7 linked regions of the Homo sapiens genome follow. The protein of the gene in region 1 purifies or fractionates together with the protein of each later gene. This does not show direct contact. Each region holds a gene or a part of one and is shown in the gene's direction. Other genes may lie near its edges.

Evidence for each region.
Region 2: the proteins of SLC35G2 (region 1) and GPR89A purify together in Homo sapiens (affinity purification with mass spectrometry, with the first as the bait; one large-scale study listed by BioGRID). This does not show direct contact.
Region 3: the proteins of SLC35G2 (region 1) and MGST2 purify together in Homo sapiens (affinity purification with mass spectrometry; one large-scale study listed by BioGRID and IntAct). This does not show direct contact.
Region 4: the proteins of SLC35G2 (region 1) and DDX23 purify together in Homo sapiens (affinity purification with mass spectrometry; one large-scale study listed by BioGRID and IntAct). This does not show direct contact.
Region 5: the proteins of SLC35G2 (region 1) and DNAJC11 purify together in Homo sapiens (affinity purification with mass spectrometry; one large-scale study listed by BioGRID and IntAct). This does not show direct contact.
Region 6: the proteins of SLC35G2 (region 1) and YME1L1 purify together in Homo sapiens (affinity purification with mass spectrometry; one large-scale study listed by BioGRID and IntAct). This does not show direct contact.
Region 7: the proteins of SLC35G2 (region 1) and UBXN8 purify together in Homo sapiens (affinity purification with mass spectrometry; one large-scale study listed by BioGRID and IntAct). This does not show direct contact.

What each region holds. Positions count from the first base shown.
Region 1 is NC_000003.12:136,821,804-136,826,226, forward strand, and holds part of SLC35G2 (solute carrier family 35 member G2), read left to right. Parts: intron 1-4,423.
Region 2 is NC_000001.11:145,621,278-145,625,700, forward strand, and holds part of GPR89A (Golgi pH regulator A), read left to right. Parts: intron 1-1,776; coding exon 1,777-1,883; intron 1,884-2,315; exon of another isoform or gene 2,316-2,335; coding exon 2,336-2,437; intron 2,438-4,423. UniProt on the Homo sapiens protein: Voltage-gated channel that enables the transfer of anions such as iodide, chloride, bromide and fluoride which may function in counter-ion conductance and participates in Golgi acidification.
Region 3 is NC_000004.12:139,678,705-139,683,127, forward strand, and holds part of MGST2 (microsomal glutathione S-transferase 2), read left to right. Parts: intron 1-4,423. UniProt on the Homo sapiens protein: Catalyzes several different glutathione-dependent reactions. Catalyzes the glutathione-dependent reduction of lipid hydroperoxides, such as 5-HPETE.
Region 4 is NC_000012.12:48,845,331-48,849,753, reverse strand, and holds part of DDX23 (probable ATP-dependent RNA helicase DDX23), read left to right. Parts: intron 1-3,971; coding exon 3,972-4,180; intron 4,181-4,423. UniProt on the Homo sapiens protein: Involved in pre-mRNA splicing and its phosphorylated form (by SRPK2) is required for spliceosomal B complex formation.
Region 5 is NC_000001.11:6,639,036-6,643,458, reverse strand, and holds part of DNAJC11 (dnaJ homolog subfamily C member 11), read left to right. Parts: intron 1-3,401; coding exon 3,402-3,557; intron 3,558-4,423.
Region 6 is NC_000010.11:27,116,105-27,120,527, reverse strand, and holds part of YME1L1 (ATP-dependent zinc metalloprotease YME1L1), read left to right. Parts: coding exon 1-93; intron 94-1,078; coding exon 1,079-1,234; intron 1,235-2,800; coding exon 2,801-2,952; intron 2,953-4,182; coding exon 4,183-4,309; intron 4,310-4,394; coding exon 4,395-4,423. UniProt on the Homo sapiens protein: ATP-dependent metalloprotease that catalyzes the degradation of folded and unfolded proteins with a suitable degron sequence in the mitochondrial intermembrane region.
Region 7 is NC_000008.11:30,753,917-30,758,339, forward strand, and holds part of UBXN8 (UBX domain-containing protein 8), read left to right. Parts: intron 1-748; coding exon 749-871; intron 872-2,848; coding exon 2,849-2,971; intron 2,972-4,423. UniProt on the Homo sapiens protein: Involved in endoplasmic reticulum-associated degradation (ERAD) for misfolded lumenal proteins, possibly by tethering VCP to the endoplasmic reticulum membrane. May play a role in reproduction.

The sequences.
Region 1 (4,423 bases):
TATAGCAGATCTTTAGAGCTTATGCATCTTGCTTGACTGAGACTTTATGCCTGTTGATTAATAACTCCTGATTTTCCCCTGCCCTCCAGTCCCTGGAAACCACCATTCTACTCCTCGATTCTATGACTTTGACTACTTCATTTTTATTTCTATTTATATTAATTTTTAATTTTTGTTGGTACATAGGTATATATATATTTACGGGGTACATGAGATGTTTTGATATAGGGATGCAACATGTTTAATAATCATATCATGGTAAATGGGGTATCCATCCCCTTGAGCATTTATCCTTTGTTTTTATAAACAATCCAGCTGTACTCTTCTAATGATTTTAAAATGTACCATTAAATTATTATTGACTATAGTCATCCTTTTGTGCTATCAAATACTAGGTGTTATTCATTCTTTCTACTTTTTGTATCCATTAACCATCCCCAGTTTTCCCCACACCCCCAACTCTCTCTCACTACCCTTCCCAGCTCTGGTAACCACCATCCTTCTACTCTTTTTCTTTTTTTGAGATTGAGTCTTGCTCTTGTTGCCCAGGCTGGAAGCTGGAGTGCAGTGGCATGATCACAGCTCACTGCAACCTCTGCCTTCTGGGTTCAAGTGACTCTCCTGCCTTAGCCTCCCAAGTAGCTAGGATTACAGGTGCCCGCCACCACACCCAGCTAATTTTTGTATTTTTAGTAGAGATGGGGTTTCACCACGTTTGCCAAGCTGGTCTCGAACTCCTGACCTCAGGTGATCTGGCTGCCTCAGCCTCCCAAAGTGCTGGGATTACAGGCGTGAGCCACTGCGCCCAGCGTACTCTCTATCTCCATGAGTTCAATTTTTTTGATTTTTAGATCCCACAGATAAGTGAAAACACGTGAAGTTTGTCTTTCTGTGCCTGGCTTATTTCACTTAACATGATGACTTTCAGTTCCATCTGTGTTGTTGCACATAACAGGATCTCATTCTTTTTTATGCCTAAATAGTACTCCATTGTATGTAAATATCTGTTGATGGACACTTACGTTGCTTCCAGATCTTGGCTATTGTGAACAGTGCGGCAACAAACATGGGAATGCAGATAACTCTTCCATATACTGATTTCCTTTCTTTTGGTTATGTACCCAGCAGTGGGATTGCTGGATTGTATGGTAGCTCTATTTTTATTTTTTTGAGGCACCTCCAAACTGTTCTTCATAGAAGTTGAACTAATTAATAATCTCACCAACAATGTGTGAGAGTTCCCTTTCTCCACATCCTTGCCAGCTTTTGTTATTGCCTGGCTTTTGGATAAAAGCCATTTTAACTGGAGTGAGATGATATCTCATTGTAGTTTTGATTTGCATTTTTCTGATGATCAATGATGTTGAGCAGCTTTTCATATACCTGTTTGCTATTTGTATGTCTTCTTTTGAGAAATGTCTATTCAGATCTTTTGCCCATTTAAAAATTGGATCATTAGATTTATTCTGATAGTTATTTGCCATTCCTTATGTATTCTGATTATTAATCCCTTGTCAGATGGGTAGTTTGCAAATATTTTCTCCCATTCTGTGGGTTGTCTTTTCACTTTGCTGACTGTTTCCTTTGCTGTGCAGAAGCTTTTAAACTTGATGTGACACCATTTATTCATTTTTGCTTTGGTTGCCTATGCTGGTGTGGCATTACTCAAGAAATTTTAGCCCAGAACAATGTCCTGGAGAGTCTCCCCAAGTTTTCTTGAAGTAGTTTTATAGTTCGAAGACTTATATTTAAGTCTTTATTCCATTTTGATTTGATTTTTCTTTTTCTTTTTTTTCTTTTTGAGATGGAGTCTCCCTCTGTCACTCAGGCTGGAGTGCAGTGAGTGCAGTGGCTTGATCTCTGCTCACTGCAACCGCCGCCTCCCAGGTTCAAACGATTCTCCTGCCTCAGCCTCCTGAGTAGCTGGGATTACAGGCGCGCGCCACCACACCTGGCTAATTTTTTTTTTTTTTTGTATTTTTAGTAGAGATGGGGTTTCAGCATGTTGGTTAGGCTGGTCTCGAACTCCTGACCTTGTGATCCACCCACCTCAGCCTCCCAAAGTGCTGGGATTACAGGCTGATTTGATTTTTCTATGTGGTGAGTGATAGGGGTCTAGTTTCATTATTCTGCATATGGATGTTGTTTTCCCGGTATCATTTATTGAAGAGACTGTCCTTTCTCCAGTGTATGTTCCTGGCACCTTTGTGGAAAATGAGTTTACTGTAGCTGTATGGATTTATTTCTGGGTTCTCTATTCTGTGTCATGGGTCTATGTATCTGTTTTTATGCCAGTACCATGCTGTTTTGGTTACTATAGCTCTGTAGTATAATTTGAAGTCACGTAATGTGATTCTTCCAGTTTTGTTCTTTTTGTTCAGGATAACTTTGGCTATTCTGGGTCTTTTGTGGTTCCATATAAATTTTAGGATTTTTTTTTCTATTTCTGTGAAGAATGTCATTGCTATTTAAACAGGAATTTCATTAAATCTATAGATTGCTTTGGGTAGTATAGACAGTTTAACAATATTGATTCTTCCAATCCATGAACATGAAATATTTTTCCATTTTTTGGTGTCCTCTTAAATTTCTTTCACAAATGTTTTATAGTTTTCTTTGTAGAGATCTTTCACGTCTTTGGTTAAGTTAATGCTTAGGTATTTAATTTGATTTGTGGCTATTGTAAATGGGTTACTTTTTTGATTTCCCTTTCAGATCGTTCACTGTTGGCATATAGAAATGCTGCTGACTTTTGTATGTTGATTTTGTGTCCTGCAACTTTACTGAATTTGTTTATCTGTAAACAGTAGTTTACTAATGAATTCTAAAGTTCTAGCAGTTTTTTGCCAGAGTCTCTAGGTTTTTCCAAATATAAGATCATATCATTTGCAAACAAGGATAATTTGTCATCTGCTTTTCCAGTTTGGATGTCCTTTATTTCTTGCTTTTTTAAAAAAATTATACTTTTTAAGTTCTAGGGTACATATGCACAACGTCCAGGTTTGTTACATAGGTATACATGTGCCATGTTTCTTTGCTGCACCCATCAACTCGTCATTTACATTAGATATTTCTCCTAATGTTATCCCTACCCCAGCCCCTGACTCCCCACCTACCAGCCCTGGTATGTGATGTTCCTCACCCTGTGTCCATGTGTTCTCATTGTTCAGCTCCCACCTATGAGTGAAAACATGCGGTGTTTGGTTTTCTGACCTTGTGATAGTTTGCTTAGAATGATGGTTTCCATCTTCATCTATGTCCCTGCAAACGTGGATGTCCTTTATTTCTTTATATTATCTGATTGCTGTAGCTAGGACTTCCAGTACTGTCTTGAATAACAGTGGTGAAAGTGGCCATCCTTTTTCTAGATCTTGAAGGAAAGGCTTTCAGTTTTTCCCCATTCAATATGATACTAGCTGTGGGTCTATCGTATATAACTTTTTTTTTTTTTTTTTGAGACAGAGCCTTGCTCTGTTGTTCTGGCTGGCGTGCAGTGGTGCCATCTTGGCTCACTGTAACCTCTCCCTCCCAGGTTCAAGCAATTCTCATGCTTCAGCCTCCCAAGCAGCTGGGACTACAGGCATGCACCACCATACCAAGGCTAATTTTTTGTATTTTTAGTAGAGGCAAGGTTTTGCCGTGTTGGCCAGGCTGGTCTCAAACTCCTGGACTCAAGTGACCCGCCCCCTCAGCCTCCCAAAGTGCTGGGATTACAGGCATGAGCCACCTTGCCCAGCCATATATGGCTTTTATTATGCTGGGATATGTTCCTTCTGTGCCCAGTTTTTTGAGGATTTTTATCATGAAGGGATGTTGAATTTTATCAAGTGCTTTCTCAGCATTAATTGAAATGATTATATGATTTTTGTTCTTTATTCTGTTGATATAATTTATCACATTGATTGATTCACACATGTTGAACCATCCTTGCATCCCTGGGATAAATCCCACTTGGTCATGATGAATGACTGTTTTAATGTATTGTTGAATTTGCTTTACTAGTATTTTGTTGAGGATTTTTGCATCAGTATTCATTAGAGATATTGGCCTGTAGTTTTCTTTCTTTGATGCGTCTTTGTTAGTTTTGGTATCAGAGTAATACTGGCCTCATAGAGTGAGTTCGGAAGTATTCTCTCCTCTATTTTTGGGAACAGTTTGAATAGGATTAGAATGCTTCCTTAAATGTTTGGTAGAATTCAGCCATCAGGTCCTGGGCTTTTCTTTTCTTTATTTTATTTTATTTTATTTTTTAAGACACAGTCTCACACTGTCGCCCAGCCTGGAGTACAGTGGCGCGATCTTGGCTCACTGCAAGCTCCACCTTCTGAGTTCACGCCATTCTCCTTCCTCAGCCTCCCAAGTAGCTGGGACTACAGGTGCCCGCCACAATGCCCGGCTAATTTTTTGCATTTTTAGTAGAGAC
Region 2 (4,423 bases), on another chromosome or scaffold:
CAGTAACAATAAATGATAATTATGCTTCCTTTGAGGAATTAATTTTTATTTTCTTACAGACATGATGATTTTATCTAACTGATCAAATTTTTTATTTCACATTGACCATTAGAAAACTTAAAGCTAAATTTATGACCTACCCATAGCAACTTTCTAGAATTCTGTTTTATAATAGCCATCAGGCTTGGCCCAATATTTTACCTGTTACCATTGTTGTTCATATTTCCTTATAGTTCATTTCATCATCCTGTATTTTATTTATCTTTGTAAGCCATTTAACCACTTAGGCCTTTTTTGAAACAAGGCTTAAGTAAGTTTAAAATCAGTAAATACAAAGGACACCATCAAGAAAGTGAACCAACATTCCAAAAACAAGAGAAAATTTTTATAAATTACCTATCTGATAATGGACTGGGACTCGTATCTAGAATATATAAAGAATTCTTATAGTTTAATCATATAATACAATTAAAAAATGAATAAAGGATCTGAATAGGCATTTCTCCAGAGATGATATACAAATGGCCAGTAAGCACATATGAATAGATGCCCAATACCATTAGCCATCAAGGAAATGCAAATCAAAACCACAATGAGATACCACTTCACACCAACTAAAATGGCTATAACCAAAAAAAAAACAGAAAATAACAAGTGTTGGCGAGGCTGAGGAGAAACTGGAACTCTCATACACTCCTGAGGAAAATGTAAAATGATGCAGCCACATTGGGAAACAGTGGGAGTGCCTAAAAGATTAAATATAGATTTATCATATGACCCAACAATTCCACTCCATTTCTACCTAAAGAGAAATGAAAACATACGTCCACACCAGAATGTATACACACACATTCCTAGCGTCTCTATTTATAATAGCTAAAAACAACCCAAATGTCCTCAATTAATGAATGCAGAAACAAAATATAATATATCCATATAATGGGATGAATATTGTTCAACCATAAAAGGAATTATTGATAGATACTACAACATGGATGAACCTTGCAAACATTATGGTAAGTAAAAGAAGCCAGTCACAAAAGATTACATATTGGTGGTTTCCTAGAAACAGAAAGTATATTGGTGGTTTCCTAGAGCTGAGGAGATTGGGGAGAAACAGGGAGTGACTGCTAATGGGTACAGGGTTTCTTTATGGCGTAATGAAAATGTTCTAAAATTGATTTAGGTGATGGTTGCACAACTCTTGAGTATACAAAAACCATTGAATTGTACACTTTAAATGGGTAAATTATATCTCATTAAAACTGTTATAAAAAGTGCTAACAAAAAGTTTTAATAAATGAAGTACATCTTATAAACTAATAAAAGTAATTCATGCAAATCAGGTGTTTATATCAAGAGTACAAAAGAAATATTTTTGAGTATAACATATATTACTGTTAACATTTATTTTCCTTTAATTCTTACATTGGAATGAGATTCCTAGGGGTGGGTAAAACAATAGTCATTCTACCAGCAATGGCATATGTTGATACATGTTAATGGTATATGTTGCCTATGAATATATCAAAAACATAAACATTCTTATTTTAATATATGAAATTCTTAAGATGTTAAGATGGTCATATATACCTTTCAAAAATTTGTATTTTTTAATCTCTACAAATGAGTAGATTTTAAGAGCCTAGTAGGCTGATTAGATAGGATATATTCAATATTGAGTCCAAAGAGCAAAAGGACCCTTTGGAAGACTAAAGAGAAAGAAAGTTGCTGCCCTCTCTTCCTCCCAGTGACAGTCTTTGACATTTATTTCAGCTCCCGTTATTTTCACTGGAAAATGAACCTGTGTGTAATTCTGCTGATCCTGGTTTTCATGGTGCCTTTTTACATTGGCTATTTTATTGTGAGCAATATCCGACTACGTAAGTATTTTACCCTCTCAGTCAGCATATAGATTGAGATGAGTATTTGAGGGGACTTAAATTGTGGATAGCTTCATTTCTACATTAACTTTCAGTATCTACCGCTATTTGAGGATACCTCACACACAACATCTTAAAAATAAATATAAAATAAATATTGAATGAATTGGCACAAAATAAATATTGAATGAATGATTAGGTTATTTGTTCTGCCACAGCTTTATTTTTCTACCTATTAATAATGTCTCCTTTAGTTCATCCCACACCTTAAATTCAGCTAAATTTCTCTTACGATGGTAAGGATGCTTTCACTAAAAATTATGCTGTTCATCAGTCATTTGCCAAGTGAATTAGCAGCCAAATATTAGTTAGCATTATCTTATATTTTTAAATAGAGCAAGCTCTTTAACCTATATCTGTTTTTCCTAACAGTTTTGTCTCCTCTGTCTCAGTGCATAAACAACGACTGCTTTTTTCCTGTCTCTTATGGCTGACCTTTATGTATTTCTTCTGGAAACTAGGAGATCCCTTTCCCATTCTCAGCCCAAAACATGGTGAGTATATATAGGAGGGCAGAGGAAGTGGGGGGAGACGATTTGTTTAATTTTCTGATTTCAAAAACAATTAATTAAATTTCTTGGGGAAAAAATGTATTTGGGGAAATAATTTATTAATTCACAGGTTCTTGGGATTTGGAAAAAAATTTTTCTGATTGAGGAGGATAGCAAGCTATTTCTCTGAAAAATGTCTGATTTTGAACCACATTTTCTCCTTCATTCTAAGAGATAACTAATGCTGGTTTTGGACCTCACTTCTGTCATTCTAGAGTAGGAATTTTTGACCTTCATTTACTGAATATACTTAAAGGGTATAAGGAAAGAGAACGGTGTCTAACTCATATTGTATATGGAACTACAGGAATATATTTGTATGTGTATTTGGAGGTAAGGTATCAATAAACTTTTATCAGATTTGGGTAGCAGATTTGGGTCTGTGACCCAAAAGGTAAACGGCCACTGCTTAAGTGATGATAAAGATACATTAGGGAAGCATATGTATTTGAGGAAAGGTGACATAAAACACCCACAATTAGTAGATAAAGAAAAGCTTTCCAAGAATCGGTGTCTCCCCTCTAACAAAAAAAGTTTATTTTAAAACAAGAAATTTGGCAGAGCCCTAATTTTTAAGCTAAAAACAATGAACAAAAGTACCTCAGCTAACAAGTCCTTCCAGAACTATTTCAGAAGTATGTATGAATCTATCTAAAAAGATTAGAGAATCTATCTAAAAAGATTAGAGAGCCCATCTGTAATAAATATACTACAGGTTTCATGCTGGAACCTTTTTAAAAAAATCTATATATATATACCTCTTTATTCACCATCCTGCCGTACCTATTACTAGGCTTCTTATTGCAGAAAACAGAATCTACTGTAACTAATTTAAAGCAGAAAGTGATTAATTATACAGTATCAGGCAATTTATAGACTTTCTAGGAAAGTAGGGATGCAAAGCTTAACTGCTATATAGTGAAGAGAAATACCCAACTATGCCACAATACTAAACTAGAAAACCTCACTGAAGTTATCACCTGCCACTCAGGGTCTATGACATCAGGGACCTCAGTCCCAGCTGTTTGAGCTCCTAAGTGCTATCACCACCCCTACATTGTTCATTTCTGCATCTGAGGCCTCACATGGGCCGGGTTTTTTGGTGAAACCTAGGTAATATTTAAAACCTTGGCCTCAAGGAAGTCTGAGAAGGGGCTTTTGGCTTTCTAAACTCTGTAGTACCAAAACAAATGCTGGAAAAGGATATTGGAATTAATGTTGAATGAGCCAGTGTCTATTATAGAATCTGCCATACCTCCCACACACCCTTCCATGTATACTGATTGCCTATAGCAGGAATTTCGGGAGAGAGGTTATGAGACTCTCCTGCAGTAAGATCAGAGGAGATATGCAGTTTTGAAAAGCATATGCAATACCATAAATAGTTGTGTATTTTTAAAATAAGAATAACTTTCAAAATTTCAAATAACGTTAAAGGCCGGAAAACTTAACATAACACCAGCCTGCCAAAAGCATTCAAACTCTTAGGTGGCGTATGAGACCTTTCATGACCTGGCTGCTGCTCTCTATACATGTTGCATTCTCCAGTCCTGTGAAATTATTTCAAGTTTCTTTTTTTTTTTCTTTTTGAGACAGGTCTCACTCTCACCCAGGCTGGAGTGCAGTGGCATGATCTTGGCTCACTGCAACCTCCGACTCCCAGGCTCAAGTGATCCTCCTACCTCAGCCTCCTGAGTAACGGGGACTATGGGCGCATGCCACCATACCCGGCTAATTTTGGTATTTTTTCATAGAGATGGGGTTTCTCCACGTTGCTCAGGATGGTCTCGAACTCCTGAGCTCAGGGGATCAACCCACCTCAGCTTCCCAAAGTGCTGGGATTACAAGTATGAGCCACCACACCCAGCCTCAAGTTTCTAGAGCTGTTCTATCAGCCTGGACAATCCTTCACCAACCCTGTCTACCTAG
Region 3 (4,423 bases), on another chromosome or scaffold:
TAGGGGAAAGGGATATGGAGAAGACCCTAAGTTCATGTGCAATATCTAGTTATAACAAGTCACTCTTCACAGCCAAGACCGTTCTCAGAATCCAGAAAGTTTGAAGGGTTCGGGGCATGAAGTCTCTGCCCACATCTATTACCAATTCAGCAGGGTATATTTACAGAAAAGGCTGGGATCTCAGGAGGGACTGCTGTGTCTCCCAAGGAGGGTCACTGGGTCAAAGAGGCCCCCTGGAGCCTTGTGAGACCACAATAGTCTGAAGTTGGATTCGTTATGCTACAATTTTCTATCTTATTTTTTCCTCCCTACTTCAAAACAGAGGTAGATCAGGATTAATCTTTTGCCAGTTTCTCTGTGAACCATTTCTTAAAATCAGAAACCTGTAAGAATGAGAAAGCTTGCCAGCTCACATGCATGCGCCATGTTTTTTGATCATCTTGTGCTCCTTGTTTTTTCAGACCCACACAAAATGTTCCACCATAAACACCGTGAACTTGCCTGCTGCAGGAATGCTAGGGCGTACTTTATATTTCATCCCCCAAAATACGTGCTTTAAGAAACATTTCATGCGTCACCACTGATATATCATTGGGTTCTTTTGTTACCATCTTGGGATTTTTCATTTATGTTTACAAGTGAGATTGGCCTACACTTTGCCTTTCTTGTCTGGTTCTTGTCTCATTTTGATACAGATGAACCTAGTGTCAAATGAGTTGGAGGAAGCATCCTGTTCTACTTTCTCAGATAATTTTAATAAGGTTGGAAGAGTGTGTTCCTTCAAGGTTGTGTAGAACTTGCCTTAAAATAATCTGGGCCTAATGTTTTTCTGGTGGGAAATTTTTAAATTATGGGATTTGCATTCTTTAATGATTATTGGACTAGGCAGGCTTTTTGTTACATCTTGAATCAATTTTGGTAGGCCTTGGTCCTTGAGATGATAACATTGGTCTCTTGATTATCCACTTGCTCCAAGGAGGGTTTTACAGACTACTCCCTAGGCTTGAAAGCGTGGGGTGAATACCACCGGGAGTACACGAGATAATTGTAAGAGGTGTGTAGACTTGGTTTTAAATAACATTGAACTACATGATGAGAAGTCATTCTCATTTCAATTATCTTTGAATCCTTATGGTTAAGTCAAGTGGAAAGTATTGGTTTGGAGCCAGCATGTCCCACACCTCAAAATTAATGTTTATTTTTATCAAAGTAATTTATGTACGTGATCTGAAGATAAAGTGGGATTACAGGTTTTATGACAACAAATAACTCTTCCTTGTCCCTACCTCCCCTCTCCCTCTATCCCTAGAGATAACCCTTTTTGATTACTACTTTGGGTATTTACTTCTGTATTTCTAAACATTATACTTTCACTGCTATTTATTGATTCACAAATTTTAGACATTGTCAGTTGGCTTCTTTTTATGGAAGAAATAATTTCATGCTCCTTTACTTCTTCTTTTCCTTACCTCATCCTTCCAGTAACATTATATCACTCTGTTAGGTTAAATCAATAGCCAATGTTTATAATTATTGTGATTAAGAAAATAATGTTGAAAGCAGGGCCTTATAGTATACTGTGGTTACATTTCCTTCTTGTGCAATTTTTTTTCCCTAGGGTTAATAATTGCTCTTTATTTCTTTGTTTGCTTAGTTTCATGCCCAAATCTTCTGCAGAACTGAAAATCTCCTTTCGTTACATTCAAATGCATTAGATAATCTAGTAATACATTTTTCTGTCTTGGAGTCATTTCTGCCTGAGTCCTCCACTTTTCGCTTCAAGTTGCGGGATGCTCTTGGTGCTTGCTGCACAGCTGCTATCCTGGGACTTCCTGTCACCATCCTAGAAATTTCCCTTATACTGTCCTGATTTGGATTTCCTGGACCTCCTGTTTTCCTGTTTATTGGTTTTCTCTCTCTTTTTAGTGGAGTGCACCCTTCAGAAGCTTCCTGAGAAAGGGTGAATGTTTGGTAAAGTTTTGAGACTTCACATATCTGAAAATGCACCTTTATCTTGCCTCACAGTTAAGGGATGGCTTGTTTAAATGCATTTCTGTATTAGAAATCCTTACCCTTAGAGTTTTTGAAAAAATTTGCTCCATGGCTTCCTAGTTCCCACTGATATTGTTGAGATGTTCTGTGCTATTCTGATTCTGGACCTTTTGTTTGGAAACTATGGAAGCTTCAGGATCTTGCCTGGCCTACTGTCCCGAGATGTTAATAGCATTGTGCTTGTTGAGAGGCTTTTTCTTCACTGTGCTCAACCCCAGGTGAGGCCTTTTCACAGCCTGAAAACTCATGTCCTTCTGTTTTAGAATTTTTTTTTTGTTTTGAGACAGGGTCTCAGTGTTGCCTTGGCTGAAGTACAGTGGCACAATCTCACCTCACTGCAGCCTTGACCTGCCAGCCTCAGGCAATCCTCCTACCTCTGCCTCCTGAGTATCTAGGACTACAGATCTGTGCTACAATGCCCTGCTAATATTTGTATTTTTTGGTAGAGATAAGGTTTCACCATGTTGCCCAGTCTGGTCTCAAACATCTGGGCTCAAGCAATCTGCCCACCTCAGCCTCCCAAAGTGCTGGGAATACAGGTGTTAGCCACTACTCCTGGCCCAGAATATTTTTTAATATTATTTCTTCCCCCAGATTTCCTCTCCTTCATTTTCTCTGTTCTTTCATTCTTAAAACGCATACTAGTTGTGTGTTAACCTCCAGGACTGATCCTCTAGTTTTCTTTTATCTTCAGGTTTTCATAATTTTGGATTTTTGTTCTTTCAGAGGAATTTCCTCAACTTCTAACTTTTTATCTGAAATTTGAGATATCATAATTTTAATTTCCAATAACTTATTTTTATTCTCTGATTGCTTTTTAGTTGTTGGTGCTGATGTTAAACCGTCACTTTTTTATTTCATTGATGTAGTTTATTCTCTTATATTTGAGGATTTTAATTATAATTTTAAAAATTCTCTGTAACATTTCTGTTTCTTCCAAGTATCTTTGTGTCTTTTTTGGCCTTTGTCTTTCATTTGTATTTATTATTTACCCATTAAGTATTTATTGAGCACTTCTGTGTACCGGGCATTGTTATAATAGCTTGGCCTAGATCCATGAACAAATCCCACAAAAATCCTTGCCCTCTTGGAGTTTGCTGAGGAAGCCAGAAAATAAACAATAAGCAGATGATATTATAAGAAAATAATATAAGCTGGGCATAGTAGCTCACACCTGTAATCCCAGGGACTCAGTAGGCCCAGGCGGGAGAACTGCTTGAGACCAGAAGTTCAAGAGCAGCCTGGGCAACATAGCAAGAGCCCCCTCTCTCTATTAAAAAAAAATTAAAAAATTAGCCACATGTGGGTACATACCTGCAGTCCTAGCTACTTGGGAGGCTGAGGTTGGAGGATTGGTTGAGCCCAGGAGTTCAAGGCTTCAGTGAGCTATGATCATGCCACTATACTCCAGCCTGGGCAACAGCGAAAGACCCCAACTCAAAATGAAAGAGAAAATCATATATTATGTTAGAAGGTAATTGGTGCTAAAAAAAAAAAAAACAAAAACAGAAAGGATAGCGTTGTAAGAGGGTATGGGATGGGTTCCTGGGGGGTAAGTTGGGTGGTCTGTGATATACAATAAAGCTATGGGTGTAGGTCCCGCTGAGAAGGTGGCATTTGTGAACATGTAGAGAAAGAGCTCTTGGGTCAGAGACAATAGTCAGAGAAAAGCCCTTAGCTGAGGATACACCCAGTGGGTTAGTCAGGAGGTTAGGGGGCTGCAGGGAGCCTGGCAGGGAGTGGGAGGAGGTCAACTCAGAGAGGTCATAGACGGCTGGGTCACACTGGGCCTTAAAGGCCACTGTAGGGGACTTTGGCTTTTCTCTGAGTGAAATGGAAAGTCATGACAGGGTTTTAAGCAAAAGAGTGACATGATCTTATATTTTAAAAGGAGAATCCTGTTTGCTTTGCTGAGAAGAGCCTGTATAGAGGCATTGGTAGAAGCAGAAAATGCATTTAGAATTCCAGGCAAGAGATGATGGTGGCTGTGTTGCAGAATTTTTGCTCCTTAGTTCAGCTAAAACTGGGTTCTTGTCACATGGCCAGGAAAGATTAGGCGTGCTGACACATTGAAGGGTGAGTAGAGCAGAATTTATTGGATGTAAAGGAAAAAAAGAAAAAAAAAAAAAGAAACTCAACAAAGCGGGAGGGGGTCCTACTCACAGGCCCCTGCCTCGCAGATTAATTCCAGGTCACCACCCACGAGCTGGAGACCAGGCTCCTCCCTCTGCACAAGGTTCGAACTTCCTGTGGCTCCACCCTGTTCCTCCAGTGAGCATGCAGGCTTTATTCAGAAAGAATCAGTTTGGAAAGGGCAGGCAAGCGGGGGCAGTTCTCCCTCAGGGTGGCAAGTTTCATCCTGGACCAGCAG
Region 4 (4,423 bases), on another chromosome or scaffold:
AGCTCAGGCATTCCACCCACCCTAGCCTCCCAAAGTGCTAGGATTACAAGTGTGAACCACCACACCTGGCTGATTTTTTTTTTTTTTTCTCTCGAGACAGAGGGAGTCTTGCTCTGTCACCCAGGCTAGTGCAGTGGCACTATCTCGGCTCACAACAACCCGCACCTCCTGGGTTCAAGCAGTTCTGCCTCAGCCTTCCGAGTATCTGGGATTACAGATGCCTGACATCACGCCTGGCTAATTTTTGTATTTTTAGTAGAGACGGGGTTTCACCCTGTTGGCCAGGCTGGTCTCGAACTCCTGACCTCATGATCTGCCTATCTCAGCCTCCCAAAGTGCTGGGATTACAGGCGTGAGCCACTGCTCCTGGCCTCCGGCTGATTTTTAACTGTTTATAAATGTAAAATTTTATTGTTCAAAATAGACGGGAAGTCTTGCTATATTACCCTGGCTGGTCTCGAACTCCTGGGCTTAAGTGATCCTCCCGCCTTGGCCTCCCAAGGTGCTGGTACTACAGGCATGAGCCACCAGGCCTGGCCAAACAAATATGTTTTTAACTGACAAACGTGTAGTTGGGCTCACACCTGTAATACCAGCACTTTGGGAGGCTGAGGCCGAAGGATCCCTTGAGCCCAGGAGTTCAAGACTAGCCTGGGCAACAAATTGAGACCTTGTCTCTAATAAAAATTTTAAGAATTAGTTGGGGCCGGGCATGGTGGCTCATGCTTGTTATCCCAGCACTTTGGGCACTCAGGGCGGATCACCTGAGGTCAGGAGTTTGAGACCAGCCTGGCCAACATGGTGAAACCCCGCCTCTACTAAAAATACAAAAATTAGCCAGGCGTGGTGTGGCACGCGCCTGTAATCCCAACTACTCAGGAGGCTGAGGCAGGAGAATCACTTGAACCTGGGAGGTGGAGGTTGTAGTGAGCCAAGATCATGCCATTGCACTCCAGCCTGGGCGACAGAGCAAGACTCCATCTCAAAAAAAAAAAAAAAAAATTAGTCAGGTGTGGTGGCATGCGCCTATAGTCCCAGCTACTTGGGAGGCCTAGGCAGGAGGATCGCTTGAGCCTGGGAAGTCAAGGCTGCAGTGTGCCGTGATTGTGCCACTGCCCTCCATCTTGCGTGAGAGGGTGAGACCCTGTCTCAACAACAACAACAACAAAACAAACCTGACAAACATGCTAAGCTAGTTCACATTTCTTGTATCTAACAAGGGTTTTTTACCCTGATCTTTTCATGGCCCTCTTTCCCATCATTCAAGTCTCAGCTTAAATGTCAACTAAAACTTCTTCCCTGAGCCATCTATCTCTTGTTATACCCCTACCCATCATATCACTGTTTTATTTTCTTCATTAGCATTCATTACTATTTAAAATCCTTTCCGCTACACTAGAATTTAAGCTTTATGAAGTAGGAGACTTTGTTTTCTTTTTTTTTTTGTTTTTTGTTTTGTTTTGTTTTTGAGACGGAGTCTCACTCTGTCACCCAGGCTGGAGTGCAGTGGCATGATCTCGGCTCACTGCAAGCTCTGCCTCCCGGGTTCACGCCATTCTCCTGCCTCAGCCTCCCGAGTAGGTGGGACTACAGGCGCCCACCACCACGCCCGGCTAATTTTTTTGTATTTTTAGTGGAGACGGGGTTTCACCCTGTTAGCCAGGATGGTCTTGATCTCCTGACCTCTTGATCTGCCCGCCTCAGCCTCCCAAAGTGCTGGGATTATAGGCGTGAGCCACCACGCCCAGCATGAGACTTTGTTTTCTTTACTGCTTTGTCTCCGTTACCTACAACAATTTCTGGCACCTTGTAGGTGCTCGGTGAATATTTGTTGAAAGAATGAATGAAATCCAGGATGCTGTACAGAGAAAATAGCCTTCCTTTGGGATTGTTTTCTTAGGGCTGTAAGTGTTTTTTTTATTTTTTATTTTTTGGTGTGTGACAGGGTTTTGCCCTGTCACCCAGACTGGGGTGCAGTGGCACAATCTCGGCTTACTGCAGCCTCTGCCTCCCGGGCTCAAGCAGTCCTTCCACCTCAGCCTCCTGGGTAGCGTGTACCACCATGCGTGGCTAATTTTTTATATTTTTAGTAGAGATGGGTTTTTGCCATATTGCCCAGGTTGGTCTCGAACTCCTGGACAAGCGATCCACCCACCTCAGCCTCCCAAAGTGCTGAGATTACAGGCATGAGCCACCACACCCAGTCAAGACATAGGTATTTCTTTCTTTTTTTTTTTTTTTGAAACGGATCACGCTCTGCTGCCAGGCTGGAGTGCAGTGGTATGATCTTGGCTCACTGCAACCTCCGCCTCCTGGGTTCAAGTGATTCTCCTGCGTCAGCCTCCTGAGTAGCTGGGACTACAGGCACGTGCCACCATGCCTGGCTAATTTTTGTATTTTTAGTAGAGATGGGGTTTCACCGTGTTGGCCAGGATGGTCTCAATCTCCTGACCTCATGATCTGCCCGCTTTGGCCTCCAAAAGTGCTAGGATTACACGGTGAGCCACCATGCCCAGCCCAAGACATAGGTATTTCTGTGTGATAGCCATGATGTACTGATACAGAACAATCAGTCATTTCTCAGGTGATTGTGAGATAAAATGGGTTGTCCTCACCTTTTGAAAGTGCTTCTTGTTCATTTTTCTTTTCTCATCTTTATACAATCTTTCTTAAGGATATATGGCAGGGAATGGCATGAGAAAGGGGCTTGTAAGCTAAAGCTTAAGGAACCATTCGAGCTGAACCATTTGGGGATAAAATAAGTTGCGAGAAATGTATCCCAAGTCTTTGGGATGATGATGAGGTGGTTGCAGATTCAGGCTTGCTGCAGTTTTAGCTCCTGGCTGAACTAGAGTTCATAGCCCAAAGAAGAGTTGACAGTGTGGGAGTGGTGTTCGGTGTCTCCCAGGTAGGAGGGAGACAGAAAAAATTCCTGCTGAAACCTTTCACAAAACTGGGTTATGCAGATGACCAAGGTTGTGAAAATCTGAATAGGGAATGTCAATCAGGACTTCTGCAACCTCTAGTTTTGGGTATTTAAAATATATATCTTTGAAATAATTATAGTTTCACAGGAAGTTAAAAAATGTGTATAGAGGTTCTGTGTACCCTTCACCAAGTTCTTCCCATTGCATAATTAGAGGTACATTTCTTTTAATCTGAGTAAAAGTGTGTTTCTCCACTTAAATTCAGGTTTTCCTTGTGGTGCTAATTATAACGTAATCCAGATCTCAAAGTTAAACTTTTTTCTCCATTGAGCTTTCTTTATGAGCTCAAGAAAATTTATCTCTCTCAGACGTATGAGTGCTAACTGATCCTAGTGGGTTGGCAGACCTAATAAACTTCAAAGTAAGCAATATAGGATGTTTCTAGAAATAGTTGGTACACTGTTCATACACTAACACTTCTTTTAATACTCTTTTGTAGTCTAATTACAAAAACATGGTATATTCACTGTACATATTTAGAAATGAATATATAAAAAGGAATCGACCAGGCACTGTGGCTCACGCCTGTAATCTCAGCCTTTTAGAGGCTGAGGCAGGAGGATTGCTTGAGGTCAGGAATTTAAGACCAGCCTGGGCAGCATAGTGAGACCCTGTCTATAAAAAAAATAAATTAGCTAGGCAAGGCAGGAGGATGGCTTGAGCCCAGGAAGTTGAAGCTGCAGTGACCTATGATTGCACCACTGCACTCCAGCCTGGGTGACAGAGTGAGACTCTGAAAGGAATTACAGGGAGACAATATAGTGAGTAACGATGGCCTGTGGAGCCAGACTGCCTGCAACTCTGCCACTACCTGTCTGCCCTCAGACAAGTTCCTTTATATACCTGAGCTCCACCGTTCTCATCTGTACGGTAGACATACTAATATATCCACCTCATAGGGTTGTTTTGAGGGTAATTGAATTATATATAAGCAGTTTAGAGCAGTGCCTAGTACATTGTAAGTACTCTTCCTACTCATTACAGATGGCAGGAGAGCTGGCTGACAAAAAGGACCGTGATGCATCACCTTCCAAGGAGGAAAGGAAGCGATCACGGACTCCTGACAGAGAGCGGGATAGAGACCGGGACCGGAAGTCTTCCCCATCTAAAGATAGAAAGCGGCATCGTTCAAGGGATAGACGTCGAGGAGGCAGCCGTTCTCGCTCTCGTTCCCGTTCCAAATCTGCAGAAAGGTAAAGTAACTTTGTATGTTATTACATGGGAAGGGAGAGTACGTTTCAGATTTCTTCCTTCTTGGTTCTTCTGATGCCTCCAGTATTAGGCATCTACTTTTTATTTTTATTTTTTGAGACAGAGTCTCGCTCTGTTTGTTACCCAGACTGGAGTGCAGTGGTGCGATCTCAGCTCACTGCAAGCTCCGCCTCGCAGGTTCACGCCATTCTCCTGCCTCTGCCTCCTGAGTGCGTAGCTGGGAC
Region 5 (4,423 bases), on another chromosome or scaffold:
CTAAAAATACAAAAAATTAACCGGGCGTGGTGGCGGGCGCCTGTAGTCTCTGCTACTTGGGAGGCTGAGGCAGGAGAATGGTGTGAACCCGGGAGGCAGAGCTTGCAGTGAGTCGAGATGGCGCCACTGCACTCCAGCCTGGGCATCAGAGCGAGACTCCACTCAAAAAAAAAAAAAAAAATGTCTGTTTTCGCTTGCATCCGTCTTCTTTCTTTCTAAACGTGCTCCAGTCAGGCCTCTCCAGCAAAACCAGCCCTCTCCAGAATCAGCCTTTCTCACCTCATCAGTGGGGCACCCTCCCTCCTGTGGCAGATCAGAGGGTGATTCTTCTTCATCTCATTTGGTCTCTGCACCTGCTGTCGCGGTGGCCGTTCCCTCCTGCCCTTACAGCCTCTCTGCCCTGAGTTTCCAGGATACCACGCCCTGCTCTGGCTTTCCGTACCAGATGGCTGCTGTCTCCCAAACCCCTAAATGGAGGCACCACTGCAGGGCACAGCCCTTCTCTCTCGACTCACTCCCAAGCAGTCATGTCCAGCCTCATGGCTCTCATGCCCTGAGGACTCACGTTGCAAGTGCCAGCTTGGACCACCCCCTCAATCTCCAGCTCATATATTTGTCCAGCTTTCTCTTCCTAATCTCTACTTGGATACCTAACAGCATCTCAGATGTCACGTATCCAAACAGAACTCGATCCCTCCCTGTGCCCCCAGAAACGAAGAACCTTCAGAACCTGCTCTGCCCGAAGTCTTTCCCATCTCTCTCTCTTTTTTTATTTTATTTTTATAGAGACAGGGTCTCACTTGGTTGCCCAGGTTGGTTTTGAACTCCTGGCTTCAAGTAGTTCTCCCGCTTCGGCCTCCTAAAGTGTTAGGATTACAGGTGTGAGCCACAGCGCCCAGCCTCCTTTCCTATCTCAGTAAATGAGAGCTCTGGCCTTCTACTTGCTCTGTCCAAAAACCTTGGAGTCAGCCTCGATCTCTTTCTCTCCCACACTCCAAATCATACATATCTCAAAATCATCTCCTGAACATGTACTCCAAAATTGTATCCCCAGTCTCGCCATTTCTCAACCTCACTGCGGCCAGCATCTTTGTCTTAGTTACACAGCACCCTCCCCACGGAACCTGTCTCCCTCCTTGTGTGTCTGCTTTCCGTAGGAGAGTCCTTTTTAAAATTGAAGGCAGTTCACGTCTGTCTTCTGCCTAAAACCTCAGAGGTTCCCTCAATTCCAGTCGGAGGCCAAAGCCCTTCAGAGACTTTGGAGCCTACAATGCCCTCCGTGATGTAGTACTCCTCTCTACCCCAACCCCAGCCATCCTGACCCCCTGGAGCTATTCCTGGCACACACCAGGCCCCCTCCTGCTTATGAGGTGGCCTTTGCTATTTCTCAGTCTGCAGATAAATACGTGGCCATTTCCTTCACTCCCTGTAAGTATCTGCTGTCTGCTCAAATGTCCCCTAATTCACCTTGTATAACATAGTAGCCCTTCCCCTTGCCCCAGGTGATCCCCCCCACCATGTTTGCCATGTTCAATCTCCAACGAGCCAGTCTCCATCTGAAGGGCCATCTCCTGCACTCCTCATCAGACATAAGCTCTTGGACTTGGTCCATTTTATTCTCACCCGCACTTCTAGAACCTAAAACCCATCGTGGTACTTGAGAGGAACTCAGTGAGTGAATCAAAGTGGATCACAGCTCAGTTTTGGAAACAAAGCCAAATCACTTACCTAGATTAGAGCTGGCGTCAGCCATCTCTCCTCAGATAATATTTGAAGGCTCAGTACAGTGGCGCGCACACTTTGGGAGGCCAAGACAGGAAGATCACTTGAGCCCAGGAGCTCAAGGTGGTAGTGAGCTGTGATTGTGCCCCTCAGCCTAGATGACAGAGTGAGACCCTGTCACTTCAAAAAAAAAAAAAAATTTTTGTCTTGAAGTCTACCTTATCTGTTACTATATAGCTTTTTTAGTCTTCTTATGCTTACTATTTATTTTTTTTACCCATTCACATTTAACCTGTCTCTGTTTGTGTGTGTGTGTGTGTGTGTGTGTGTATATATATATATATATTTTTTTTTTTTTTGGAGACGGAGTTTCGCTCTTGCACCCCAGACTGGAGTGCATTTGGCTCACTGCAACCTCCACCTCCCAGGTTCAAGCAATTCTCCTACCTCAGCCTCCTGAGTAGCTGGGATTACAGGCGCCCACCACCACACCCAGCTAATTTTTGTATTTTAAGTAGAGACAGGGTTTCACCATGTTGGCCAGGCTGGTCTCAAACTCCTGACCTCAAGCGATCCTCCTGCCTCAGCCTCCCAAAATGCTAGGATTACAGGCGTGAGCCACTGAGCCTGGCCAAGTTTTGAGTGTTCTTTATCAATTCTGGAATTGCTTTTATTCTGGAAGAGCTTTTATTCTGGAAGAGTGTGATCAGGTATTGTCAGTGGCTACTCAGCATGTTTTCTTTTTCTGGCTTTTCAGCAGTTTGTGATGTACATAGATAAGGCTGTTGTTGTATTTATGATGCTTGGGGTTTCCTAAACTTCTTGCATCTGTAAATTTCCTTTTCCTCACTGGGGCTCTAATTACCAATATATTAAACTTAACACTCTTCCACGGGTTTCTGAGATTCTGTCCATGCATCCTCAGTCCTTTTCCTCTTGTTGACCAGGCTGGAGTGCTGTGGTACAATCTGCCTCCTGGGTTGAAGCGTTCTCCCGCCTCACTCAGCCTCCCGAGTAGCTGGGACTACAGACAGGTACCACCACGCCCGGCTAATTTTTGTATTTTTGGTAGAGATGAAGTTTCACCATGTTGGCCAGGCTGGTCTCAAATTCCTGACCTCAGGTGATTCGCCCACCTCAGCCTCCCAAAGTACTGGGATTACAGGCGTGAGCCACCACGCCTGGCCAAATTTTTTATATGTGGTCCAGAGTTTACACATTGGTCCAATAGGAGCTACTTTACTCAGCCACCACTGGAAGCAGAACCTCCTTAACTGACTAACTTTTGAAGTCTTCACTAACTTCTTTGGAAACCTCAGTTAAGAACTGAGATGTGACTCTCCAGTGACATCTGGAGGAGCCCATTCCTGTCCTCTCCAGCCTATGACTGAATGCACCTGTAGGGGACGTTGACCCCGTGAAGTGTTCCTCTTGTTGCTTTGGCTTGAGGTCAGCAGACACTGGGATCTTTCTTCTGTCACAGTGTCAGATCCATCAGCCAGACTTTGGAACGGGAGGCCAGAAGGTGGTGGACTGTGAAAGGAGCAGACTGCAGGCTCCTTTAACTCGCAGCTGCACGCAGCACAAGTTCTCTTCCTGTGCCTGACACCCCATTGCCCTTCCCTGGAAAACCTGATTCATCTTGGCTTTTTTTTTTTTTTTTTTGTATTTTTCCCCAGGCTCAACAGGGCCAGTCAGACATACTTCTTCCCTATTCACTTGACGGACCAGCTTCTGCCCAGCGCCATGTTCTATGCCACCGTGGGGCCTCTAGTGGTCTACTTTGCCATGCACCGTCTGATCATCAAACCATACCTCAGGGCTCAGAAAGAGAAGTGAGTTGACACGTCATGGGCATGTCACTAGCCAGCCCTGTGCCTCAGTTTCCTCACCCTTAAAATGGAGAGGATAACAGAGCCTCCTGCGTCGGGTGATGAGGAAACCTGAATTAAGTAATGCATGTAAAGCACTTAGGCTGATGTCTGGGTCACGATTGGTAAATGTTAACTATTTCTCCTCATTGTCCGTAGTTGGACTGCTGTTATCTCTTCGTTTGTAAATCTTACTCTCAGAAAGGACTGGAGTTTATAGAAGTGTTGGGCCTCGGCTGGGCGTGGTGGCTCACGCCTGTATTCCCAGCACTTTGGAAGGCTGAGGCAGGTGGATTACCCGAGGTGAGGCGTTCAGGACCAGTCTGGCCAACATGGTGAAACCCTGTCTCTACTAAAAAAATAGAAAAATTAGCCGGGCGTGGTGGCACGTGCCTGTAATCCCAGCTACCTGGGAGGCTGAGACAGGAGAATTGCTTGAACCTGGGAGGTGGATGTTGCAGTGAGCCTAGATTGCGCCATTGCACTCCAGCCTGGGTGACAGAGCAAGACTCGGTCTCAAAAAAAAAAAAAAAAAAAGTGTTGATCCTCTAAACCATGGCCTCAAGAAAGAAGAAGTTTTCCTTTCTCCTTTCCCAGCGCTGAGTTTAAGAGGAATGCGTTCTGGATCCGTATGTGAGGGGCCTGCGTTAACTAGAGTCTTGAAAGTCACAGAAACACAACGTTTTTGCAGTTTCTTAGATAATCCATTGGGGCATGCCGTGAAACCTAAATTATTAGTGCAAGCATCTCTACAGAAAACTGAGAGCTGGTATAGATTTGTTACTTTATAATATCTCATTTAGTAAAGCATTGCACTTAGAGAATCTCAG
Region 6 (4,423 bases), on another chromosome or scaffold:
GTTTTGACATGCAAGTTACAGTTCCAAGGCCAGATGTAAAAGGTCGAACAGAAATTTTGAAATGGTATCTCAATAAAATAAAGTTTGATCAATGTAAGTATCAAAACAAACATTTGTCATTTCTGTAAAGTGGTAATATACCACTCACCCTGTTTGTGGTCCTTTCATGATACATGTATTAACATTAAAAGACCAGTTCATTTTTGTCTTTTTTTTTTCCATTAGTATGTTCGTTTAAAAGTCCATTCCTTAGTGTATATCCAGGAGATTCTATTGTTTTGAACCCTGAGTCTAAAGAAAGGTTTTTTTAGAGTATTCAGACAGATAATATTTGAGGATACATACATATACATACACACACACACATTTTTTTAAGATGAATGTAAAATGCAAAATAATTTAAAAAAGCTGCAGAAACAGTAACTCATGATATAGTCAGTGTGGGGCCAAAAGAGAAGAAAGCAAATTATAAAACAAAACACATGGAAATTTATTACTCACTTGAGTAATAAATGAAATTATTAAAGCTGCAGTAGTTTCAGAGATAGCTGTATCAATTCATTAAACTATACATGTTTCCTATAAGGGCAGCTTTTATGTCTAAAGTATTTCCAGATGAAATTCAGAGAAAAAGTGACTAAACTATGGCTCAGAATAGCTAGCTATTTTCTTTTTTCCCTTGGAATGTGAGGTGTTTTTTTTTTTTGGTTTTTTTTTGAGACAAGAGTTTTGCCCTTTTTGCCTAGGCTGGAGTGGAGTGGCACAATCTTGGCTTACTGCAACCTCCACCTCCCGGGTTCAAGTGATTCTTCTGCCTCAGCCTTCTGAATAGCTGGGATTACAGGTGCATGCCACCATGCCCAGCTAATTTTTGTATTTTTAGTAGAGATGGGGTTTCACCATGTTGGCCAGGATGGTCTCCAACTCCTGTCCTTAGGTGATCTGCCTGCCCCAGCCTCCCAAAGTGCTGGGATTACAGGCATGAGCCAACGCACCCAGTTGGAATGTGAGTTCTTTGTGAAGAGCTTTCTTTTACCTGTTTTAGACTTATTAGCGTTGTGTTCTCTTTTTACATTAGCCGTTGATCCAGAAATTATAGCTCGAGGTACTGTTGGCTTTTCCGGAGCAGAGTTGGAGAATCTTGTGAACCAGGCTGCATTAAAAGCAGCTGTTGATGGAAAAGAAATGGTTACCATGAAGGAGCTGGAGTTTTCCAAAGACAAAATTCTAATGGGTAGGTTTCCTTTCTTTTTTTTCTGTCTTTTACTTTTCATTGTGTTAGATAATTCATTTAGGGGCAAATACTCTATTCAAACAGCTAAAGCCATGGCTATGTTGAATCTAATCTTACTCTAAAACTTCAGTGTCTGGGTTTTCAAGATTTGTAATAAATGATTTTACAAAATTCCCAACTTAACATCAAACAAATGCCATTAAACTGTAACATTTTCTTGACAATAATCTTGTCAGTGATACAGAACTGATTTTATAGTGTACCACATTTATTAGTTTTGTCTCTTTCTTAGAAAACCTTTTTTTCTGACTGGAAAGCTTTAAAAAGTGATGGGAACATGAAAATATATACTTGACAACACCACAATTTGGCATCTTACGAAACAAATATATTCTAGTTGCTTATGTAATTATATAGTTAAACTGGTAGTGGGGAGATGAGGCACGTATACATTTCCTCTTGTCAGACATTGCTGCGAAAAAGGATACTTTATTCTGTGCTTAATTTCGATTTTAAATCTTGGATTGGCTTAAAATCACATTAATTATGATATTCTTGTTAAACTGGAAGTTTATTTTATAGAAATAGAAATAAGTTTTCCCTTTTGAATTAAGATGATAGTTTTGACAGTTTTGGTTTTCAGTTAAATTGTTAAAGTTTGTATGTGTTAGGAATGAATTCTGCCCATTTTAAAAAACTTTGTAGACTGGGCGTGGTGGCTCACACCTGTAATCCCAGCACTTTGGGAGGCCAAGGCAGGAGGACTGCTTGAGCCCAGAATCGTTGGAGTTCAAGATCAGCTGGGCAACATAGCAAGACTCCATCTCTACCAAAAATTTTAAAAATTAGTTGGGTGGGGTGGCATGCGACTGTGGTCCCATCTACTTGGGAGTCCTAGGTGGGAGGATTACTTAAGTCCAAGAAGTTAAAGCTACAGTGAGCCATGATCATGCCACTGTATTCCAGCCTGGGTTACAGACCCTGTTTAAAAAGAAACAAAATTACTAAAAATTACTAAAGCTAGGTGCAGTGGCACATGCCTGTAATCCCAGCACTTTGGGAAGCTGAGGTGGGTGGATTGCTTGAGGCTAAGAGTTCAAGGTTGGAGTGAGCTATAATAAGAATGACTTTAAGGAGAATGAGTTTTTTGTTTTATAATATTAATCCCATATCAGATACATTCACCTCTCAGTATCCACTGAAGGGGTGGGGATTGGTTCCAGGACCCATGTGGATACCAAAATTCAGGGATGCTCAAGTGTCTTTTATAAAATGGTGTACTATTTGCATATACCTACATAATTCTCCTGTATACTTCAAATCATCTCTAGATTACTAATACAATATAAATGCTCTGTAAATAGTTGTTATAATGTATTTTTTTCATTTGTATTATTTTTTATTGTTCCTCTTCCCCATAGTTTTAATCCTTATTTGGTTGAATCTATGGATGCAGAATCTGCTGATAGGAAGGGTGGAGTGTATTTGATTTGCAGACAAGAATGTGTTTTGTTGATTTAAATATACCTTTCTAATGGAGTATTTACTCAATTAAATTTATCTTAGGGCCTGAAAGAAGAAGTGTGGAAATTGATAACAAAAACAAAACCATCACAGCATATCATGAATCTGGTCATGCCATTATTGCATATTACACAAAAGATGCAATGCCTATCAACAAAGCTACAATCATGCCACGGGGGCCAACACTTGGACATGTAAGTTTTTTGTAGTGTCTCGCCCTGTCACCCAGGCTGGAGTGCAATGGCGCGATCTCAGCTCACTGCAACCTCTGCCTTCCGGATTCAAACGATTCTTTCACCTCAGCCTCCCAAGTAACTGGGATTACAGGTGCCCACCACCACGCCCAGCTAATTTTTGTAATTTTAGTAGAGATGGGGTTTCACCATGTTGGCCAGGCTGCTCTAGAACTCCTGACCTCAGGTGATCCACCTGCCTCAGTCTCCCAAAGTGCTGGGATTACAGGCGTGAGCCACCATGCCCTGCCTAATTCTTAAATATCTAATTACTCCGCTGCCCCAAAAGGGAAAACATTATGTTTTGTAGTAACTGATTCAGTAGTTTCTCTAAGATTTTTATCATTTAGTACAAGTTTATCAGATCTTTCAACATTGTAGACATTTAAAAAATTTCTATGCACCTGGGGAGAAAACAGTCCTATTGCAGCATTATCCACCTATTGTTGTTGCTTTATAAAGGATGTTTTTATTCTCTAATTGCTGGTTTTTCATCAGTCCCCTGATGACCAGCTTTCAGCAACATGGTATAAAGTACTTTAGTGAGAGCTAAATGATAATTCTGGTTTGTATTTTTTTATTTTGCCCAGTCTTACGGTGCTGAAATTCTGGTTTTTAATGTAACTATATCAGAACTGTATCTGAATTTTTTTTAAATTTTTATTTTATTTTATATTGATGGAGTCTCGCGATGTTGCCCAGTCTACTCTCAAACTCCTGGGCTCAAGTGATCCTCACACCTCAGCCTCCCAAAGTGCTGAGACTACAGGTATGAGCCACTGCACCCAGCCTGTATCTGAATTTCTTTCATTACATTTTATTTTATTTTAATTTAATTTGGTTTTATTTTATTTATTGTATTTTATTTTTGAGATGGAGTTTCACTCTTGTTGCCCAGGCTAGAGTGCAATGGCATGATCTCAGCTCACTGCAACCTCTGTCTCCTGGCTTCAAGTGAGTCTTCTGCCTTAGCCTCCCAAGTAGTTGGGATTATAGCCATGCACCACCATGCCTGCCTAATTTTGTATTTTTAGTAGAGACAGGATTTCTCCATGTTGGTCAGGCTGGTCTCGAACTCCCAACCTCAGGTGATCCACCCACCTCGCCTGCCAAAGTGCTGGGATTCAGGCGTGAGCCACCGCACCCAGCCTCTTTGCTTATTTTTTATCTGATTAATTTTTAATTGTCTAGGTGTCCCTGTTACCTGAGAATGACAGATGGAATGAAACTAGAGCCCAGCTGCTTGCACAAATGGATGTTAGTATGGGAGGAAGAGTGGCAGAGGAGCTTATATTTGGAACCGACCATATTACAACAGGTTAGCTTTAAAGAATGGCTTTAGTTCAAATTATATGTGGTCTTAAAGATATGTTTTAAAATGGTATGTTTTTATTTTATTTTAGGTGCTTCCAGTGATTTTGATAATGCCACT
Region 7 (4,423 bases), on another chromosome or scaffold:
CACACACACACCACCATGCTCAGCTAATTTTTAAAAAATTTTGGGCCAGGCGTGGTGGTGCACGCCTGTAATCCCAGCACTTTGAGAGGCTGAGACGGGTGGATCACGAGGTCAAGAGATCGAGACTATCCTGGCCAACAAGGTGAAACCCTGTCTCTACTAAAAATACAAAAATTAGCTGGGCGTGGTGGCAGGCACCTGTAGTCCCAGCTACTTGGGAGACTGAGGCAGGACAATCACTTGAACCCAGGAGCCAGAGATGGCAGTGAGTGGAGACTGCACCACTGCACTCCATCCTGGGTGACAGAGTGAGACTCCATCTCAAAACAAAAACAAAAACAAAGGATGTTGGCTTCCCTCTCCAGATTTAAGATCTGAAATTCTAAAGATGGCACTTGGTTTCCCATTTGTGACAAATCCTTGGAGTTGCCATACCGGCATTCAATTTGAATCAGGATAGGAAAAGTAGATCCTCCCATTCTCTCAGGAAATGGGATTGTTCCCAGCATGAAAACCACAACCTGGTTGATACTGTCATAATCAGGCAGGTCAAAAACAAATGCCTGTCCCGCTTGCTGTCCAGCTGTCGGCACGAGCCTCCCCACAACCAAGCAGCCAAACAGGGTGGCAGTGGCTCTGTTCAGCCAGCAGGGTTCTTACTTGGTTCTTATTTACAACTTTATAGACAGTGTACATTTTTAGGAACATTAATGGATAGTAACAACACCTAATTTGTTGTTTTCAACAGGCCAGCAGATACATAGAGAATGTTTTAAAACCTCACCAGGAAATGAAATTGAGAAAACTGGAGGAGCGCTTTTATCAAATGACGGGTGAAGCCTGGAAATTAAGCAGTGGTCACAAACTTGGGGTTGGAAAATATTCTCATTTTATATTTTGAATCCTCTTACTATGTTTCCTATTACATGATTGATTTTTAATTGAAAATGATGTTAGACTGCTTTTAGGAGTTTTTATTGATAATGATTATCAGTTTTTGTTCAGCATACTTGTTTATTACATGGTTAAGGGGTTGGTCGTTTTTTTTTTTTTTTTGAGATGGAGTCTTGCTTTGTTCCCCTAGGCTGGAGTTCAGTGGCACAATCTCGGCTCACTGCAAGCTCCGCCTCCCAGGTTCATGCCATTCTCCTGCCTCAGCCTCCCGAGTAGCTGGGACTACAGGCGCCTGCCACCATGCCCAGCTAATTTTTTGTATTTTTAGTAGAGATGGGGTCTCACCGTGTTAGCCAGGATGGTCTCAATCTCCTGACCTCATGATCCGCCCGCCTCACCCTCCCAAAGTGCTGGGATTACAGGCGTGAGCCACTGAGCCCAGCTGGTCTTTGTTTTTAAAAGACAGTCTCTCTCTCTTGCCCTGGCTGGGGTGCAGTGGCACGATCATAGCTCACTGCAGCCTCAAACTCCAGGGCTCAAGGGATCCTCCTGCCTCAGCTTCTTAAGTAGCTGGGACTATAGGTGCACCCTACCATGGACTGCACCTGGCTGGTTAAGTGGTTTTTGGTGCCTAAAGAGCATATAACTTGGTTCCTTAAAAAGCTGTTGTGGTGGCTAACGCCTGTAATCCCAGCAATTTGGAAGGATGAGGCAGGCAGATTGCTTGAGACGAGGAGTTTGAGACCAGCCTGGGCAACATAGGAAGACCCTGTCTCTACAAAAAAAAAATTAAAAATTAGCCAGACGTGGTAGTGTGTGGCTGTAGTCTCAGCTACTTGGGAGGTTGAGGCAGGAGGATCACTTGAGCCCAGGAGGTCAAGAGGCTGCAGTGAGCTGTGACTGTACCACTGCACTCTAGGCTGGGAGACAGAGCAAGACCCTTTCTCCAGAAAAAAAAAAAAAAAAAAAAAGAAGACTGACTGTGACATAAGATAGTCTTTAAAACTGTCAAATAAATTGTTATTGTCTTATATGAGGACAAGAATATTCTGATCTTTCCTCAAGTCAAGATCTCCAAGGTATTAAGCTCAGGTTATATATGTTATTATATATTATATATTCTGATTTTTAAGTCAAATTAAACTTTGGTTATGTTTTCCTTCAGCATTGAATATGAATTTTGTCAGTTTCTATAGAAGTTTACAATTTTAAATTTTCTTTTTTTTTTTTTTGAGGCTGAGTCTCACTCTGTCGCCCAAGTTGGAGTGCAATGGCACCATCTCAGCTCAATGCAACCTCTGCCTCTCAGGTTCAAGCAATTCTTCTGCCTCAGCTAATTTTTGTTTTTGAGACAGAGTCTCTCTCCATCGCCCAGGCTGGAGTGCAGTGGTGCGATCTCAGCTTACTGCAACCTCCGCCTCCTAGGCTCAAGTGATTTTCCTGCCTCAGTCTCCCACGTAGCTGGGATTACAGGTAACTGCCACCGCGCCCAGCTAATTTTTGTATGTCTTTTTAGTAGAGATGGGATTTCACCATGTTGGCCAGGCTGGTCTCTAACTCCTGACCTCCTGTGATCTGCCCACCTCGGCGTTCCAAAATGCTGTGATTACAAGCGTGAGCCACCATACCCGGCCAATTTTTGCATTTTTTTAGTAGAGATTGGGTTTCACTGTGTTAGCCAGGCTGGTCTTGAACTCCTGACTTCAGGTGATCTGCCCTCCTCAGTCTCCCAAAGTGCTGGGATTACAGGTGTGAGCCATAGCACCCGGCTCAAGCCTCGTGTTTTCCTGTCCACGGAGATAATGCTTTAATTTTTTGGGTCTCATAATGGCTTGCTAATATTTTTCTACTGATATGCCATCAGGGTAAAAAAAGGAAAAAGGAAAAACAATTGTGAATAGAATAAAGTTGATAGAAAACATCTCTTTAGAAATTGTCTGTTGTGTTTGACCAGGGTGATGAAGGTACAAGTCAGACATCTTTTGAAACATCAAACAGAGAAGCAGCAAAGAGCCAGAACTTGCCTAAACCTTTAACTGAATTTCCGTCTCCTGCTGAACAGCCCACATGCAAGGAGGTAAAGTACTTCATGCCTCTCATTGAATTGTGTCTGTGTGCAGTAGGAGTATTGAACTCTGGGTGAGGTGGTATACTGGGTGAAGATCAGGACTGGCCTTTCATCCAGATGGTGTCTTCCCACTGCCTTACAAAGCAATCACCCCAGAATAGGCCGGGCATGGTGGCTGACATCTGTAATCCCAACACTTTGGGAGGCCGAGGCCGATGGAGGTTGAGGCCAGGAGTTTGAGACCAGCCTGGCCAACATGGTGAAACCCCATCTCTATTTAAAAAAAAAAAAAAAGAATAATTTTCCCTGTTCAATATTAATGATGTTCTGAATCCAACTTGGAAGCAATAAAGACAAATGATAATAGGTTTAGAAAATACTCAATTCTTAGCCAGGCACTGTGGCTCATGCCTGTAATCCCAGCACTTTGGGACATGAAGGCAGGCAGATCACCTGAGGTCAGGAGTTCAAGACCAGCCTGGCCAACATGGTGAAACCCCATCTCTACTAAAAATACAAAAAAATTAGCTGGGCGTGGTGGCAGGCACCTGTAATCCCAGCTACTGAGGAGGCTGAGACAGGAGAATCGCTTGAACCTGGGAGGTGGAGGTTGCAGTGAGCCAAGATTGCACCATTGCACTCCAGCCTGGACAACAGTAGTGAAACTCCATCTCAAAAACAAAAAACAAAAAACAAAAAGGGCTGGGCATGGTGGCTCATGCCTGTAATCCCAGTAGTTTGGGAGGCCGAGGTGGGTGGATCACGAGGTCACGAGTTCAAGACCAGCCTGGCTAAGATGGTAAAACCCCATCTCTACTAAAAATACAAAAATTAGCCAGGTGCAGTGGCAGGCGCCTGTAATCCCAGCTACTCAGGAGGCTGAAGCAGGAGAATCTCTTGAACCCAGCGGGGTGGAGGTTGCAGTGAGCCTAGATTGCGCCACTGCACTCCAGCCTGCGCGACAGAGTGAGACTCCGTCTCAAAAAAAAAAAAAAAAAAGAATTGATATTTTTTCTTTGTTTTTTTGAGACAGAGTCTCACTCTGTCGCCCAGACTGGAATACAGTGGTGAAATCTCAGCTCACTGCAGGCTCTGCCTCCTGGGTTCACACCATTCTCACCATTCTCCTGCCTCAGCCTCCCGAGTAGCTGGGACTACAGGCGCCCACCACCCCACCCAGCTAATTTTTTTGTATTTTTAGTAGAGACGGGGTTTCACCATGTTAGCCAGGATGGTCTCAATCTCCTGACCACGTGATCCGCCCGCCTTGGCCTCCCAAAGTGCTGGGATTACAGGCGTGAGCCACTGCGCCCAGCCGAAAATACTCAATTCTTTTTAAGGAATTTGATTATGTAAAAATGAAAAATATAATGCTTACGAAGGGAAGCATTCCTATTAACTTAAGAACATTATCAAGCCCTATCTTGTGAGTGGCTAATAGCTGTTATTAACATGAGTGTA